Linked DNA regions of Homo sapiens. The protein of the gene in region 1 purifies or fractionates together with the protein of each later gene. This does not show direct contact. Each region holds a gene or a part of one and is shown in the gene's direction. Other genes may lie near its edges. The genes, in order: S100A16, OXCT1 and SUCLA2.

What was found.
Region 2: the proteins of S100A16 (region 1) and OXCT1 fractionate together in Homo sapiens (co-fractionation; one large-scale study listed by BioGRID). This does not show direct contact.
Region 3: the proteins of S100A16 (region 1) and SUCLA2 fractionate together in Homo sapiens (co-fractionation; one large-scale study listed by BioGRID). This does not show direct contact.

The regions. Positions count from the first base shown.
Region 1 is NC_000001.11:153,606,506-153,610,257, reverse strand, and holds the end of S100A16 (protein S100-A16), read left to right. Parts: intron 1-902; exon of another isoform or gene 903-1,359; intron 1,360-2,080; 5' UTR 2,081-2,106; coding exon 2,107-2,259; intron 2,260-2,539; exon of another isoform or gene 2,540-2,565; coding exon 2,566-2,724; 3' UTR 2,725-3,372; downstream 3,373-3,752. UniProt on the Homo sapiens protein: Calcium-binding protein. Binds one calcium ion per monomer. Can promote differentiation of adipocytes (in vitro). Overexpression in preadipocytes increases their proliferation, enhances adipogenesis and reduces insulin-stimulated glucose uptake.
Region 2 is NC_000005.10:41,807,851-41,811,502, reverse strand, and holds part of OXCT1 (succinyl-CoA:3-ketoacid coenzyme A transferase 1, mitochondrial isoform 3 precursor), read left to right. Parts: intron 1-3,652. UniProt on the Homo sapiens protein: Key enzyme for ketone body catabolism.
Region 3 is NC_000013.11:47,984,173-47,987,824, reverse strand, and holds part of SUCLA2 (succinate--CoA ligase [ADP-forming] subunit beta, mitochondrial precursor), read left to right. Parts: intron 1-3,652. UniProt on the Homo sapiens protein: ATP-specific succinyl-CoA synthetase functions in the citric acid cycle (TCA), coupling the hydrolysis of succinyl-CoA to the synthesis of ATP and thus represents the only step of substrate-level phosphorylation in the TCA.

The DNA.
Region 1 (3,752 bases):
CAAGTCTTGGTTGGGAGTGGACTTGGCACAGTCCTTCCAGAAATGGGCACGGTTTTCAGAATCACCTGGAACACTGGTCATGAACCTGAGCCACCTCCAACCCAAGGGCAGCACAGCAGACAGACCACAGGTTGAACAATGGTCTTCCTCTTCAACTGTAAATGTTAAAGTGTTTGTATGAAAGTCTTGCAGCGGTATAGACAGGGAACCACGCAGTTACACACTTAAATAAAAGAATATGGAAAAGCGTGTGGCTTCCTGCCATCCTGGTACTCTGCTCCATCCTCCCAGCCAAGGACCAGAGGGTTTGGGCAGGCGGAGGAGGGAAGACAAGGGCAGGATTTCCCTTCAGAGAAGCCGCAGCCTGACTCTTCCTCTCAACTCTCCTTCCTTCTTGCTTCCTGGCCTGTTCCCTCCTGGTCCCACCCTTCCTTCAGAAGAGGCTTCATGAAAGAAAAAGCTTAAAAGGTGGTCAAGGACGTGCAATACCCGTTATCAGGGCTGGAAGGAGGTGGAATATTTATAGAACGTGTACCTTGAGCAAGGCACTGGACCAGGCAATGTGGGCTGGAGAGATGCAGAGATTAAAAGCAGGGGGTGGTGTATATCCAGGATTGAAAAAACTGTCCTAAAGTCTGAGTCCCGCCGCTTGGTTCAGAAAATACATTGGCCATGTGTAAGAAAAACTATGCTTGTCTCAAGGAACAAGACAGGACCCAGAAAGACACCGTGGCCTCACCAGTTAGTGGGCCCCAGCCAGTGCTAGCTGAGTGGTGATGACAGACACGTCTGTGGGAGTCAGGGAGGATGGCACCCAGTGCAGGGGTCAAGGCAGGCTTCCTTCGGAGGCGTGGCTTGGGCGGGGCGAGAGTGATTGGCAGGCTGGCTGGAGAGGGCAGGGCAGCCGGCATGGGAGTAGGAATGGCCACAAGTGGCCAACGGAAAGCAGGTGGCAGGACAGGAGGCTGTGGTGGGGCCTGACCGAGCAGCCTTTCCTTCCAAATCTGACTGTGGCTTGCTCAGGCCCCTATGGTGGCTGTGACCCTGTTTTGTCCATCTCCTTTCACCAGGACCCGCCGGGTGAGGGTGACTGGAGCACATTCCTGGGCTTGGGGGTGGGAAGGGAGTCTGATTTGCCTGGGGTTGATGTGGGGGGGTTTTGGGCATGGGCCGTGACTCACAGAGTAGATCCAGATCCGCCTGCTCCCCTCATATCCTGTTATTCAGAAGGCTGTATCCGCTTAGAAAGTGTCTTTTGTCCTGGGGTGAGAGGGTGACGCATGTGCCCTCTGGCAGTCTGCTGCTGTGTCCAGAGTCCGACTCCAGCTGGGCTGTAACTGGGCTTGGCCCCCGCCTTAGGTAACGATGTGTGGGTGGGGGTGTTCTTGGGTCCTGCTGTGTATTTAGGGATGGGAATAAGGGAGGAGAGGCTAGCAGGGTGTGGCGGGGTGTGTTGGGAGAGCTGCACAAAATCTGATCCAATTGATCTGGACCTTGTCCTTTCCCATAAGGGGCAGCCAGGTTCTGAGACCCGGGACTCACTGTCCTGGAGCCCGGCAAGGGATTGGGGAAGGCCTACATCTTCCTTTCTGCTTTGTTGCCTGGGGCTGGGGTCTCAGCCAGTCCTGGGAGTGGGAGGCAGTAGCCTCTGCCCCTAACCTCCATGGCTCATCCCAGCTGTCCCAGCCATGCTTGGCCCCGGGAGAGGTGGGCCAGCTGTGGAGCAGGGTGGGAGAACAGGTGGACTCTTCTCTTCCCATGAGAGCCTCTTGCCCCGTAGGGCTCTGACACTAGGGATCTTGCTCCCTAGGGCTGGAACCTGGTGCCTGGGGCTGGGGCAGGGCCTGGAGAACCTGTTGAGGCGGTTGAGCTGGGGAGCACCTGGATTAGAGGAGCCGCATAGTTCTCATTCCAGGGCTCACTCTCCCCCACCCACTCTGTTCCCCTTTTCCTGCCACCTTCTTCTCCAGGGACCAGAAACAAGGCAGGAGGAGGGACCCAGGGCCTAGGGTGGGTGTGGAGGAGGAGGAGGTATGGCCTGTGGGTGTCTCTTCTCATCTCCCCTCCTCCTGGTGTCCAGGCCCCGCCAGCAGGCGAAGCAGGGAGATGTCAGACTGCTACACGGAGCTGGAGAAGGCAGTCATTGTCCTGGTGGAAAACTTCTACAAATATGTGTCTAAGTACAGCCTGGTCAAGAACAAGATCAGCAAGAGCAGCTTCCGCGAGATGCTCCAGAAAGAGCTGAACCACATGCTGTCGGTAAGGCCTCTCACCCAAGGGCCTTGCCTCCCTCTCCCCTTCCCTCCCCTGCAAGCCTCTGGCCTCTGAGGGTGTCTTTCCCTGCTGAGGCCTCTATCCTTCCAGTGTCCCCGCTAACTCCAGGGTCTTCTACACCCCCAGGCCTCTGTCTTCTCAGGATGCTTAGGCCTAGCCAGTGAGGGCTATATTTGCATTTCCCAAGGGAAGCAGCTGTGCAGGCCAGATCCTGGGTCTCTGCCTAGGGTCCTGCCTGGAGTCTCTCTGGGGCTTCCACCATCAGCATTGCTGACCCTGCTTCCTCCCCAGGACACAGGGAACCGGAAGGCTGCGGATAAGCTCATCCAGAACCTGGATGCCAATCATGATGGGCGCATCAGCTTCGATGAGTACTGGACCTTGATAGGCGGCATCACCGGCCCCATCGCCAAACTCATCCATGAGCAGGAGCAGCAGAGCAGCAGCTAGAGACCCCTTTGGCCACACCTTCCAGGCACTGGCCTGATGCCCCGCCCTGGTGCTCTCCCCAGGCTCCCTCCTCAGCCTCCTGCCCACCCAGGGCCCTTTACTCTCTTCTCCCTCCAGACCTTCCTCTGACCCTTGCTGAACTGGGGTCCCTTTGTGAGTGTCTCAGTCTAGAGGTACCTCCCTCCCTGGGGGGTCTCAGCTCCTGGAGTCGCAGGCCCTTGGGGCCCCTCTGTGAGATCTCAATGCTGTCTGGGGACCCTAAGAGTTTTCTCACCTGTTCAGTCTCATCTAACCTTCCAATGTCTGATGTTCCTGCCAAATTCCTGCCTGATTCTGGGTCCGTCCTGACCTCCAAAGGTCAGCTTGGTGCTTGAGGTCTCCCTGCTCTTGGTGGCAGTGGTAGCAGCAACAGCAGCAGCAGCAGCAGCAGCAGCAGCAGAGACCTCTCCACTTTCCCTTAGCCCCTCTGCTGGGTAGAGAGGCACTTTCAGGGACTTCCCTCCAGCTGCCTCTTCATCTGGGAATGAGCTAAGCAAGGCTGAGCCTCCTCCTGTTGCTTGAAATAATGATGATATAAAGGCTGGATTTGGAGTTTGTATCCCCTGGTCCCTCTGGGATGCTCATTAAAACCTTCCCACTCCTTGGAAACGTTTTATGCTTTGGTGGTCTTAGCCCTTGGGCCCTGTGATAAGAGAGAATCTCACAGAAGAACCTCAAAGGCAGAGCAAGAAAGGAGCCAGAACTCCTAAATTCCAACAGGCACTGTCAGCTGTGGGCCAGCAGCTCCCTCCATCCTCCTCCATAAAGGGCCAAAGGCCTTAGGTCACCATCTCTGGGCCCTTTTAGCCCAGACTCAGACTCAAATTCAACTTCCAGGCACACTGTAAGTCCCGTTTAGTCCTCACTGCAATTCCACGAGAGAGGGACCATGACCCTTAGTCTTTTTTTTTTTTTTTTTTTGGAGCGGAGAGTTTAATAGGCAAGAAGGGGCAAGACGGAAGGGAGAAGGAAGAAGCTCCCCTGTACAG
Region 2 (3,652 bases), on another chromosome or scaffold:
TGCCTTACATGCTGACCTCCTCTTTCTCTACATTGCCTCTTGTTTAAAAAATTATTTCTTTTTTGATACATGATAGACCTGTATGTTTTCAGGGTACCTGTGATAATTTGACATATTCGTATAACATAAAGGTAAAATCAGGGTAATTGGGATATTCATTACCATATTTATCTATTCTTTATGCTAAGCACATTCAAATTATTCTCTTCTAGCAACTTTGAGAGGTACAATAGATTTTTAACTATAGTTATCCTATTTATCTATTGAACGTGAGGTCTTACTCACATTTCCTCTTCATTTTACTCATTTTACTTCATTTTAACATCCAGAGCACCTCTGCATTTAACTTGTAACTTCTCTTATTGCTTATTGTCTCCCCCTTTTATTTTTCTAGACTTCCACAGCTGCTTTTTTTTTTTTTCCCTCTCTTTTGGAGTTAATGTTTCTCATGATTCTAGACATTATTGCTTGTTGTCTGTTTTTTTTCTTTTCTTTTTGGCAAAAGAAGTTTCCTCCTAAACTTTTTTGAAACTTAAAATGAGTCAGGAAGAAAGCCTGGAATGTGAGTCTCCCTCTTCCTCCCCCTCAACAGCCCTTACTTTGTATCGTACACAGAGTTTTGCAGGTGTGTATAATTTTTCGCTAACACCATTTAGGGTTGGGTCCATTTTTGTGTCTATAACAGATTGAGGTTGTCACTAAAATAAAATAAAAAATGAGGACGTTATTGCCTTGCAGCTCCTCTTTTCTCTTACCTGAGATATAATGTTTGCCAAGCAATCACAAACACATTGTCACCAAGGGATGAATTCTTATCCTTCTCTAAGCTTTAAAATAAGTTTTCAGTTATAAAGTAGGAAGAGTGCAGTGCAGAGAAAGCAATCTTTTAAAACAAAGTTCAGATCAATAACAACATTTCCTAGTGTCTATTTTTCTGTTAATGACTAAAGACAAGTACCAATTAGAGAAGCCTCAAACGTCTGGATTTCTGGTTGTAGCAAGTGGTGGGGCATGAGAACTATTCATAGTGCCATGGAGAAGTCCGGGTTGTTCTTAGCTACCTCTCTTCCATCTTGATCTTGCCTGAGGATACTTACATCTGCCCATTGCTTTGCCCTGAGGCTTTTCCTTTGTCCTTTATTCTTTATTACCCATTTCTAACTTCAGGAGGAAAACTCTGCCATCTTTAGTAAGGGATCTTTTATTTTTATGTTTGTCCTAACCAGCTCATTTTAGTCATCATTTTCTCATCAGGTTTTCCATTAACGCTTATGTTTAAATCGCCTGATCTCACTAGACTTTTTAATCCTCCCATTGCTCCTTCCTTATTGTTCTCAAGATCACACGAAACTGGCACTGAAGTCAGTCCCTTCAATAGCTAGCATTAAGATAGTTCTGCCTCTTCATTTTTTTTTTTAAACTCTTTTCATAGATTGTCTGAAAACATGTTTTCTTCTTTTGGTTTGTACTTCAAATATTTTCTTTCTTAGCTATTAACTCTGCTAACCAACTCTGAGAAAGCTTTGATTTTTGTATAGACGTTTTCAATACTGTTGAGTGTTGTTATTTTGACAAATGCTGCACATGCATTTTCTACAGTCTGAAAGCCATTTATATTAGGATGACAAAACATGGAATTGTTTATGTTTAGCTAGATTCTTGCTTATCGGAGTTGTTTTACCAGGACATATTCATTCTGTTAGTTCTGAGAGTTATGATATAATTGTCCTTGGTAATGAAGCTTTGTCTTGATTTGGTGTTTTCTGTTGAAACATTCTTTGATGGAACCAAAAGAAAATAGTGGCGGGTTTCCATCAGCATTTTCAGTTTAAGTGAGCAATACTTTTTTTTCTTCCTTTTTTATTATGTTCTTTGCCCCTGCTAGAGGGTAAGGCAGGAAGACCAAAGGAAGCTGCTGTCACAATCATAGCAAGAGATTTGAGGGCCTGACCTTTTGGAGCAATATTAGGCATGAAAAATAATTCACATTATTATTTTCAAATGTGCAGGCAAGAAGGGTTTGCTTAGTTTAGTTCATAATGTGACTGCTTTTAGGGTTTAGAAACTTCAGTTTTTCTTAGACTCTCTATTTTCTTTTTAACATGCCCTCTTTGGTACATGTCAAACTAATTGTGAGATTTATCACATGCTCCACTTATGATTTTCTAGTTTTAGAAACTTAGTGTTTATCACATCTTCTGAAAAAATAACATTGTGGGTTTCAGTTTTGATTATAAAAGTAAAAGGAAAACAAAAACCACTTGTACTATTACCCAGAGATAACAATTCTTAGCATTTCCGTGTGTTTCCTTTTATTTTCTGTAGGTATATAAATAATTGTCTATCCCAAAGTGCATTTCTATAAATTTTTATTTACTTATACAAAATCTTGCATTTTATGAAACATGAAATTATGAGATCATTAAATATTATGAGTGCATAATATTGATTAATCACATGGCTACACCATGTTTATTTGACCATTTCCCTATTGCTGACATTAAAGTTGTTTTCAATTCATTATTATAATAAATTTTGTGATTAGTGTTTTCATGAATAATAAATCTTCATGTCTATCCTCAGGATACTGGATTAATGTATAAACACATTTTTAAAGTCAAGAACTTCTTTGAAGGCTAAAACTGAATATGGAAAGATGTGAATGAGCCCTAATGGCTGAAAGTTCCAACCAGTTGAAGAGGTAGCAGTAGTGCTTAGCTGCTCTGCATTCCCCACCTCCACCTCGAATAGAAAATACTGGAGCATACAGAGTTTTCAAGGGGAGGACATAGAGTGCAGTGGCAAGGGGTCTTCGGCCCCACTTTCCCTGTCTCCTCACTCATCCCCAGATGCCTCTCTACCCAGTAGTTCAACTTGGATGCCGACATATTTTCTGACCTTTCCTTGGAATTTTTGTTTGATTTTTCTGTTTATCAAAGAAGATAGCTTTTATCCACCATGTCCTTGCCTTTTTCAGCTATTTGTGAGCATTGCACAATAAGTAAAATGTCTTCTGTAAGCCCTGGTATTCTTGCACTGTAGGAGGAGCCTAGTGAAGGCATATAGTAGTAGAACAGCATAAGAAGGGCTACTTAACCTCACAGATTTCCAGATTTCAGTGATTAGTTTAGGAAACAAAAATCAATACTACTATCCTTGTATAAGTCAGTTCATGGAAGCAAACGTTTGTTTTGGACACTGTATCTGTTAAGCTGAGTACTCACAACTTAAAGGTGTGTATGTTTGTGTGCGTGCGTGTCACCAGAAAGCTAATTCTTTCACCACAACAATGTTGAGTTTAGTTTTTCTTGATCCTTGTTCTTTTGAACTGTTTTATGTTGATAGAAAAATTGTCTTTTAAATTAATTCTAAAATAACAGACTAATGTGGAGGCATTTCATATTGCTATATGACCTTATTCTTGGTGAATGACTTTGATTCTAATTAAATTGAGTATTTCTAGTTATTAATTAATATTTCAGTTTTGAAGTTTCCATATTGGAATTAATTATCTGTCTTTAAGTAAATTATTTCAGCAATTGCAGTTGTATCACGATCCTAGGAAGCTAACAAGAATAATTTACAACTGTTACAAATAGCATTTGTATCTATATTTAAAAAGCTCTTCAATTGACCAAGCAGATGTTATTAC
Region 3 (3,652 bases), on another chromosome or scaffold:
AACTGGGTATATATTTGAAAGCCCCAGTACGGATTTCATGTAGAACATTAATTGTGTAGAATTTAGAGTAACAAAAATTTTAAGAGTCATGAAAATAATTTTCTTATGTAGAACAACTTTTTTAAAAATAACAACTTTCTGTATTGTGATTTTTCTTATTTACAATTAAATCTATTAATGTTTGAATGATATGTCTTTTGCAACTTTTAATTTTTATAAGGAAGTATTTCTAAAGATATAACACTAGATGGTAGTAAAAATCCACTCAGAATATAAAATTAAGAAGCATTGTTTTATTCTTAAGTGATATTCTATGTGATAGAATTTAGTTTGTAAGTTATTTTAAAAATCCCATGACAGTAACCTCATATATTACCCAAAATTTACATAAATTATATTTTTACACATTCACTTATTTTCACTACATTTTATTTTTCTTTTCATTGACATTATATATCGGCATCTGTCATTTTGTTAGTTATGTTTTTACTTTTTGTTACAGTAGCCAGAAACAAGGTATAAATACCTGGATGAATTGAGATAGGAGTTCTATCCATAGTAATTCATCTTTATTGTAGTAAAGGTAGGATACTGAATATGTATTATTAAAGATATGTTTAAGGCATTTGGGAAAAGGATCAAATTTGAGTTCATCTTATGAACTTGAATTTCCTGACAACTATTTAGGTCTTGTTGAGGATAAAATGTTTTTATTTTAATACTTGCTTACTAATAATACGTGGTTATAATTCAGGTTAAAAATACTGTAGTACCAGTAAAACTGTTTGACCGAAGACATTATAAATTCTTTGATATTATCACATTAGACCAATGTAGAGTTGGTTGGTGTTACTTTTTGGGGTATAGCCATGTTTTTGGGAATCCCTGTGGACAGATCTCTGTTGAACAACAAAAATTAGTCACCTATTTAAACTACAAAGAGCACTTGTGATTGAGTTAATGTCCCATGCATGGGAATTAACTAATCATTAGAAATTGCTTTTGTTAAAATGGGGAAAGGATTTCCTATTTAATAAATGGTGCTGGGAGAACAGGCTAGCCATGCAGAAAATTGAAACTGAACCCCTTCCCTACACCATATACAAAAGTTAACTCAAGATGGATTAAAGACTTAAATGTAAAACTCAAAACTATAAAAACTCTAGAAGGAAATCTAGGTAATACCATTCATTCAGGACATAGGCGCGGGCAAAGATTCATGATGAAAACGCCAAAAGCAATTGCAACAAAAGCAAAAATTGACAAATGGGATCTAATTAAGCTAAAGAGCTTCTGCACAGCAAAGGAAACTATCATCATAGTGAACACACAACCTGCAGAATGGGAGTAGATTTTTGCAATCTATCCTTCCGACAAAGGTCTAATATCCAAAGTTTATGAGAAACTTAAAACAAATTTTCAAGAAAAAAAGCAAACAACCCCATTAAAAAGGGGGCAAAGTACATGAACAGACACTTCTCAAAAGAAGACACAGGCTGGGTGTGGTGGCTCACGCCTGTAATCCCAGCACTTTGGGAGGCCGAGGTGGACGAATTACCTGAGGTGAGGAGTTTGAGACCAGCATGGCCAACAAGGTGAAACCCTGTCTCTACTAAAAATAAAAAAATTAGTTGGGCATGGTGGTGAGTTCCTGTAATCCCAGCTACTTGGGAGGCTGAGGCAGGAGAATGGCTTGAATCTGGGAGGTGGAGGTTGCAGTGAGCCGAGGTTGTGCTACTGCACTCCCGTCTGGGCGACAGAGTAAGAATCCGTTTCAAAAAAAAAAAAAAAAAAACTATACATATGGCCAACACACATGTGATTAAAAAGCTCATCACTGATCTTTAGAGAAAAGCAAATCAAAACCACAATGAGATACCATCTCATGCCACTCAGGTGGCTATCATTAAAAAGTCAAAAAACAACAGATGCTGGTGAGGTTTTGCAGAAAAAGGAATGCCTTTACAGTGTTGACGGGAGTGTAAATTAGTTCAACCATTGTGGAAGACAGTGTGGCAATTCCTCAAAGACCTAGAGGCAGAAATACTATTTGACCCAGCAATCCCACTACTGGGTATATACCCAAAAGAATATAAATCATTCTGTTATAAAGATACATGCATCGGTATGTTCACTGCAGCACTGTTCACAATAGCAAAGACATGGAATCAACCTAAACATCCACCGATGATAGACTGGATAAGAAAATGTGGTACATATACACCATGGAATACTCTGCAGCCATAAAAAAGGAATGAGATTATGTCCTTTGCAGGGATATGGATGGAGTTGGAAGCCATTATCCTCAGCAAACTAATGCAGGAGCAGAAAACCAAACACCGTGTGTTTTCACTTAAAAGTGGGAACTGAATGATGAGAACACATGGACACAAGGTGGGGATCAACACACACTGGGGCCTGTCGGGGTGGGGGTGGAGGGAGGGAGAGCATCAGAAAGAATAGCTAGTGAATGTTGGGCTTAATACCTGGGTGATGGGATGATCTGTACAGCACACCACCATGGCACATGTTTACCTATGTAACAAACCTACACATCCTGGACATGTACACCTCAACTTAAAAGTTGAAGAGAAAAAAAAAGAATAAGCAAAGCAAAACTAAAACAAAACAGAAAACAATTACTTCTATTACTGACTTGTTTTTAGGAGATGTATCATAGGTTCTACTGGTCTTTAGTACCTTTCACATCCTGATTCCGGGAGGTAACTTCTATGGGGTTGGCTTGCCAGAAAGTGAATTCAAGTACCTACTCTCTGTGTGATACCTTTGTTAAATTAGATTTCTTAACATTTGCCTAGTGCCTGTTGGGTACTTTTGGTCTGAGTCAAGTCTATTTAATAAATCACATTTACTACTTTTATTTTTCTGGTAAAACAACTGCAGTCTTCTGCAAATGAGTGGGACATTTTCCTGTGTCAATTTTTGACTTTACCTGAAATAGTTATAAAATGTGCTTAAGAATTCTAATTTTACTTCGTGTGATTTTTTTTAAATACACATCTTTATTTTTTATTTTTATTTTTAATTTTTTTGAGAGTCTTGCTCTGTCGCCCAGGCTGGAGTGCAGTGGTGCCATCTCTGCTCACTGCAACCTCCGCCTCCCAAGTTCAAGTGATTCCCCTGCCTCAGCCTTCCAAGTAGCTGGGATTACAGGTGCATTCCACGATGCCCTGCTACAGATCTTTATTATATCATGTGGCTGCTTTCTCATTTAAGCCTTTTACATTTAAGCCTATTTTAAGGCAAATTTAAAAAAATACCAACAAGAGAAGAAGAACTTAGGTTAAGAAAGTGAAAAGTAGGGCTGGGCGTGGTGGCTGACACCTGTAATCCCGACACTTTGGGAGGCTGAGGCGGGCGGATCATGAGGTCAGGAGATCGAGACCATCCTGGCTAACACAGTGAAACACTGTCTCTACTAAAAATACAAAAAAAACAAAAAATTAGCTGGGCGTGGTGGGGGGTGCCTGTAGTCCCAGCTACTCGGGAGGCTGAGGCAGGAGAATGGCATGAACTCAGGAGACGGAGCTTGCAGTGAGCCGAGATTGCACCACTGCACTCCAGCCTGGGTGACAGAGTGAGACTGTGTCAAAATAAAAAAAAAAAAAAGTGAAAAGTAGAATTATTAATA